Linked DNA regions of Homo sapiens. The gene in region 2 interacts genetically with the main gene of each other region. Each region holds a gene or a part of one and is shown on either strand. Other genes may lie near its edges.

What was found. Genes that interact genetically often act in the same process or in processes that back each other up.
Region 1: changes in CTNNBL1 (region 2) and CAPZB together harm fitness less than expected from each alone (positive genetic interaction), as found in Homo sapiens cells (one large-scale study listed by BioGRID).

The regions. Positions count from the first base shown.
Region 1 is NC_000001.11:19,479,040-19,482,689, forward strand, and holds part of CAPZB (F-actin-capping protein subunit beta), read right to left. Parts: intron 1-3,650. UniProt on the Homo sapiens protein: F-actin-capping proteins bind in a Ca(2+)-independent manner to the fast growing ends of actin filaments (barbed end) thereby blocking the exchange of subunits at these ends.
Region 2 is NC_000020.11:37,868,462-37,872,111, forward strand, and holds part of CTNNBL1 (beta-catenin-like protein 1), read left to right. Parts: intron 1-3,463; coding exon 3,464-3,552; 3' UTR 3,553-3,650. UniProt on the Homo sapiens protein: Component of the PRP19-CDC5L complex that forms an integral part of the spliceosome and is required for activating pre-mRNA splicing.

The sequences.
Region 1 (3,650 bases), on a different chromosome or scaffold from region 2:
CTCTACTAAAAATACAAAAAATTAGCTAGGCATGGTGGTACGCACCTGTAGTCCCAGCTACTTGGGAGGCTGAGGCAAGAGAATTCCCTGAGTCTAGGAGACGGAGGTTGCAGGGAGTCGAGATCGTGCCACTGTACTCCAGCCTAGGTGGCAGAGCGAGACTCTGTCTCAAACAAACAAACAAAAAAAAACTAGCTTCTGTTATTCCTACAGCTGCCATGCAGAGCCCGCCACCCCACCATCTCCCTCAGCAGACTGGTGTCTTAGGCACCAGAACCTAATGCTGTGTGCATCAGGCTGAACTTGGTGCCACCTGCAGTCACAGAGTCACTGGCTGGATGGATCACTGGGCTACCCAGACTGAAATCCCCATTCAGTTGTTAACAGGCTCTCAAGGCTTTGCAGACACCACTATCTAGGATTTAGACTGACCTGAAATAGCTGTGTGTCAATGATAAACTGTCCAATCAGAACACCTACATGGGACAGCTCTGGGGCAGACCCCCTCAGCTCCAGAGGTGGTAAATCATTCCGTGTCACTCTGCCTTTATCTCCTTCCACCATCCCTTCCTTTCCACACCCACAGCTGCACAGTGGCCAGGACCCTCATAAGCTCACAAGCTGATGCTTGTGGAGGCCTCTCTCCCATCTCTTTCACCTCCCAGGCCTCCTGCATGCACAGCCAGAGGGCTCTTCCTAAAATACCACCGCTCTGCCAGCCTCCTCGAATTTCTACCTGCCCTGTCAAAAATTTCACTGGCTCCACACTGTCCCAGATCTAATGCAAACTCCTTAGCTTAGCAACTCAGGCACTCCACAACTCACTCCTGAGACTGAGGCACCCCATGGGCTCGCATCTACTGCTTGTGTGACCACACCCCCTGACCTCTGCTTTTGTGCCAGTCCCCTTGACCATACCCCACCCTGTCCTCTCTGCCTGAGCACACTCTTCCCAGGCTTCATGCCCAGCCCCCAAGCCGACTGCAGGCTGGAGTGGTCTGCAGGGCTGCGTGGAGGAGGGGGAAATGCAAGCCAGGCCTGCAGGGATGGGCAGACCACAGCACCCATGGGTCCCTGGCTAAGTCTTTTCTAGTACTACTTCATTCCTGCTGCACTTGGCTTTTTGGACGCATCTTGCCTCCCCCTCCCAGATTAGAGGACAGGGATGATGGCTTCTATTTGTGTCCCTTATTCTGTGGTATGCAGAATAAGACATGCAACAACCACAGCTACTGTGTGCCAAGCACTGGAGTAAGTACATTACAAATTTCACCCCTACTCCCCATCTCTATAAAATGTTATCCTCATGCGACGGAACAGGAAAACTGAGACCAAGGGAATTAGCCGCCTCACTGACAGTCACATGCTGAGTGGCAGACAGGACTCAAATCCAGATGTGCCCAACTGCAGAGACCATGTTCTGTGGAGCAGGCAGCCGCCTCTCAGCTCTCACTCAGTGTTTATGTAGCTGGCGCTAAGTGCCAGGCGGCCAGTGCAAGGTGTGGGGTACTCAGAGGGAACCAAACAGACAAGGTCCCTGCTCTCACAGAGCTCATATGCTCTGTCCCCAGCCCTGTCTCTCTTCTTCCAAGCCTGGAAGAGGGCAGGAACCCTCCAGTCACAGGGGGTTCCACTGGCACAAACAAGGAATTCGGGCCTGACATATAGCATGAGGCTCTGGCAACACATGGTGCCCAGCTCACAGTGAGCTTGTCTTTAATGGAGAAAAGAGCCCCAGGCTCTATTAGGTAAGTTGTGCGTTCAAGGCACAACCCAGAGCCAGACAAACTCCAAAGCAGCCATCGGCAGGCAGTACGGAGTGGAGAAAAACGGTTTGCTCTGGAGTCAGAAAACCCAATTCCTCCACTTAGTAGCTAGACAGGGACTAACCATACACCCCTTTGCACACTTTTGGAAAATGGTGATAATAACAATAGTTAATGTTTACATCACTATGTGCCAGATGCTACTGGATGCACTTGACAGATATTACTTAACCCTCATTACGACCTTATGCAGAGGTACTGTTATCCTAAAGCAGTCTGGCTCCTAACTCTATTTTCTTGTACTATGCTGCCTCCAGCCTAAAGTTGAACCTACCTTGTCAGGCTGTGGTGAGGACCGTTCTAACAGAGTGCATAGCATGTGGCTGGTGCTCCATAACCATTAAACCTCCCTTTCCTTCCACTGAAACATGAATCTGTGAAAGCCTAGGTCTGGAAATAGCATATGGCTCTAGCTGGTCCCAATATGGGTGATCTTGCAGTTGCATCCCCTGGAATTCCACACCGCACCCTCACTGGTGGATCTGCTGCAAGGGGAAATGGGACAAGATCCTGTATTTACGGGGCCCTCTGCTCACTGTGTTCTGGAAAACACAGTGAGTGGGGTCCAGCACATGACTTGGGCTGACAGGGATCCGAATCCCAGGCCTGCTGTTCACACCGGTCACTCAAGCTCTCAAGCTTCAGGTTCCTTGTGAGTAAAATGGGGGCTGGGCTATAACCTAAGTCATGTTTCTGGGTCACAGCAGATCCTCGGGTACCCGGGTTGGACAGGCTGGACAAAGCTACCCAGGCTGGACTTCCAAGGTACTGTAAGGTTTCATTTCGGGGCCCCAGAAAGCCTTGGCTGTGCAGAGGAGCGGACTGCGTGCACGTGCAATCCAATTCCACCCAATGGCAGACACAAGAGAAGACACACCCCAAAAGGCCTGGGAGTGGAGCCTGGCACAAGCCCCCAGCTTTCTCTTCAGTTTCCTGCCATAGCTCATGCAGATGTGCCTGCAGGTACACTGAACAAGGCTCTTTCCCCCTTAAGCTTTAGGTAACGATGACATCCCCACCCCTCAACAATGTGAGCCATGAGGGCAGAGATCCTTGTCTTGCATCCTCAGCACATAAGCACCACAGAGTAGGCACTTAATACACAAAAAGCTGAATTAACATTATCCTGTAGCTGCAGGTACCCCACAACATGCCTCAGTATTTGCCTAACAATAAGCATTTCCCAGCCTGGAGGGAGGGCAGGCTTCTAACGGGCGAGGCACCTGCCCTGCCACCATTTCCCTGTGGTCAGTCATGTCCTGTTCCCCACCTCATGGAATGTAAAAGTATAGGATGTCTGAGTTATAAATAGGAGCATCTGCTTTCAAAGACACGGCTTATCATTTCCTTAATCTCAAGCCACTGATCACTGCCTACTTTTTATAAGCATGCCACCAAAAAGAGGCCAGGTGGGCTTAAATGAACAGGGCTGTATAGACAGACAAGAGGGATGTGAGTTGAACAATGTGTCTTATCCACATCAAGAGACATTAATGTCAACTATGTTGTTTCACCTTGTAACAATACCAAGTTCCCATCAGCTCCTGCCAGGCAAAACCATCTGTGAGCTGGAGCAGCAATTCCTGAGGGGGCCTCCCTAGTCCCCGTTCCTGCTAAAGCCTCACCATCATCATAACTAAGAATAATTCCCAAGTCAGAAACTGAAGCTGTGTAAGGAACGGTGCTCTGAAATTGTACAGCACTCAGACAGTGGTAAGATTATTACCTGCTAAGGGAATGCAAATAAATTCCATTTGCCTATGCATTTTAACTGGGAAGGAGAAACTCATGCCAACAAAAATCATGGAATTCATTCCAAAGTCA
Region 2 (3,650 bases):
CCTAGAAAATGCAGGCACATAGCAGTGCACAGCACATGTTAGTTCCACTCCGCTCTGTATGGGACAGGCCCTCTTCCAGGGGACACTAAGCCATTCACTGCCTGTGGGCCAGTCGGATATCCCCTTTCCAGAGAATGGGTGATGTGACTGTTTGCTTCTTAGCACAGTTGGAGTGACACAGGAGACTTGCGCATAGGATGGGTGCTCTGTGTACCGTCGGCATATGTAAGCGAGGCCTCGGCACAGGTGATTCGGCAAAGGGATTGATGCAGGTGTGGGTTCCCTCTGCTTCGTACATCCCTAGAAAGAACTCAGGGAAGCCGGCTTTACTGTTGGAAAATCACTGCCCCACAGCATCGGACTGTTTCTCCACTTCCCTCTCTCCTGGGTCTGAGAAGACATTAGGAGAGCAAAGTGTTAGCTCAATCCATTAAGACTCCTGCTTCCAGACCATGCCTCCGGGGATATTAGATGCCATAATGGTCATTTCTCTCTCTCCTGGGGCAGCAACTATATCATTCACATGTGAGTAAGAGATACCACTTACACACAGCCCCAGAGCCTTCTGCCAAAGCTCAGTTCCTGTCTCCATCACCCTGGCCCTCTCTCTAAGGGGCCTTAATAGGAGGCATCACAACCACTTGCTGTTGGAGGTGATGGATGGGCCTAACAGAAGAGGATTTCTGGGGGTAGACACACAGCTGGCACATGCCTGAATCCCACATCCCATTTTCTGGCACACGACCAAAGTAATAAAGAGGAACGGGGCAAAATAAAGAGGTAGCAGGAGCAAAATTACTTCCCCAGCATTGGCAGGGGTGGGGCTGACAGGGGAGGGGTGAGAGGTCACATGCTTTGTCTCCCCAGTCTTTGTCTGGTTTGGATCAGCAGGTGTTTTATTATGCAAAAGCCTCTTACTAGAGAGTTCTCTCCATTTTCTTTCTCAAGCCAGGCCCCAGTAAGGGACCAGGGGGCAGAAGTGCAGGCAGCCATCCTAGTCACCCACTGCAGGAGATCCTTCAGCACGACACTCTGCTGGGGGGCCCTCGGCCAGGCTTAGCTGGGAGGAAGGCGAAAGCCCCTGCCTTCATGCAGCTCTCTGTCTAGGGAGAGAGGGGCTGGGTGGAGGATGGTCTAGCAGTCAGGCCCACATGTGCTGGAGGCAGTGGCCTGGGGCCGGGTGTGGGAGTGAGAGGTGACCAGGCAGGCTTTCACAGAGAAGACATCTCAGGAGGGGACCCGGAGGAGGTGTGGGACTTCCCCAGTGCCATTACTGGCCTGAGCAAAGGAGGCTGAGGGAGGGAACTAATGTTCCCTGGACGTTTGTTATTTGAACATTTTCAGAGGGGACCACCCAAGGGCACAGTTGTGAGTCAGAGCTAGGATTTGATTGCCTTTTCCTCTCTGGCTGTGGGCAGGGGACAGTCAGAGGGCAGTGAAGGGTTGGACCACCCCATCCTCCCCCTTCCCCTCCCACCAGATCCCCTACACTTGCTCTAGGAGCCACCGCAGGAAGTCCAGAGTCACCAAATCATCCCTCGCCATCTCCTAAAAAAAAAAAAAAACAGGGTGACCATGTTATTTTGGGGGACGAGGACACTAAAAAAAAAGAAATGGCGTCTTAAGGATCACTGTGCTGGGACAACAGGGGAGACAAGAACACAAGCCTGCCCACCATGACACTCTCTGATGGCATCCTCTGCTGATCTGTTGCCAGAACTGTGCCCAGAGCCTCACCCTCCTCAGGAATATTTCCTTTCTCTTCCTGGTCTCACTGAAACCTGGTGCTCCTACACCCCTCCTGCCACTGGAGACATAGGAGGGGTCTTCCATGCTCCAGTACTTCTAGACTATTCTCTCTCCCTCCCTTCCCCGAATACACCCAGCTGTCGAAGTTTGTGTCGGGGGACTGCACCCCCCGACAGCCCCTCCCTGTTGTTGGCACCAGCACCTGTGCCCCCAGTCCTTGCGGGGATTCTGGGCTCACTGTCAGCCTCCCCAATGCTCTTGTCATATTTCTTGGTGATTGCAACATCCATATCTCTTTCTCACACCCCATTTCCGGTCTATCTGTAAATCCTATTGGAGCCACCCTCAGAAAACATCAAGAAGCTGAAGACGTCGCCTCACCTCCACCGCTACCTGCCCAATCCAGGCCACTGTCACGTCGCATCTCCTTTCCCTGCCTTTGCTTCCCCCATGGTGTCCCCCACACAGCATTGAGAGGGATCTGGCAAAAGTCAAATCACGTCATTCCTTTCTGCTCAGGACCCACCGCACAGAAAGGCCACAGCCCTTACCGTGGTGCACAGACCCACACCATCTGGGTATGGCCCCTCCCGTGGCTCCAGGCTGTGGCCACGCTGACCTCTTCGCTGACCCTCAGATAAACCAAAGAAGTGCCTCCCCTTAGATCCTCTGCCCTGGCTGCCCTGCCACTCGCTCCTAGACCTTTCCACACTCATCTCCTTCTGATCTTTAAGCAGATACTCCCTGCTGACAGCCACCTGTGTATTTTGTTCACTTTTTGGTTTGTGACCCTCACTAGAAAGTAGGCTCCACACAAGCAGAAATTTGCATCTGTTTCTATCACTGCTTTATTCCCATTCCCAAAAAAAGGTTCTCAAACTGGAGCATACATCAGCATCACCTGGAGACTCAATAAATCCCAGATCACTGGGCCCCACCCGTTTCCTGTTAAGTGGGTCTAGGGTGGTCCCAAGAATTTGTGTTTCTAGTAAGTTTCCATGCAGTGCTGCTGCTGCTGCTGCTGCTCGGGTCCACACTCAGAACCACTCACCCAGAGCAGTGCCTGCCCAGCTGGTGTCTGTCTTAGTCTGTTCGTGCTGCTGTAACAAAATCCCTGAGACTGGGTAATTTATGAAGAACAGAAATGTACTTCCTCACAATTCTGGAGGCGGGGGGTCCAAGAGCACTGCCCCAACCTTTGGTGTCTGCTGAGGGCCGTCCTATTGCATCCTCACATTGCAGAAGGGGGAAGGGCAAAGGGTCTTGAGAGTTCCCTGCAGTCCTTTTGCAAGGGTCTAATCCCCCTAGATTAGACCTAATCTAGACCTAATCTAATCTTATAATTAGATGGTAAGAACCTAATCACCCCATAAAGGCCTTCGATGCGTTGAGGATGAGGTTTCAGCATGAGTTTTGGAGGGGACACAAACATTCAGACCTTAGTAGCATCCACGCCATGTGTGTTGAGTGAATAAATACATGAGGGCGGAAGTGAAGGGTGTGGCTAGGAGGGGAATCCAAGCATGGAAAGGTAAGTTGGGACCTTTCCACTGAGGCCTCAAAGGCAAGACCCCAAGGAATTTGGCTACAGTGGGGGCATTAGGGCGACTTGCACCTCTGTGGGAGCTGGGGTTCTGGGAAAGGTATGAAGCGACGCAGCCACGGTGGATGCCATGCCTGGGATCCACTCCTGACTCTATCTTTGTCCCCCTAGAGTATGCAGAGAACATCGGGGACGGCCGGAGCCCGGAGTTCCGGGAGAACGAGCAAAAGCGCATCCTGGGCTTGCTGGAGAACTTCTAGAGGCACCTTGGCCCTGCGCATCATGGACTCTCTCAGCTTCCCTCCCAGGATCAGTTTCTACACAACTCTGTGTGGCTTTTGGACAAATTAAAGCTAGT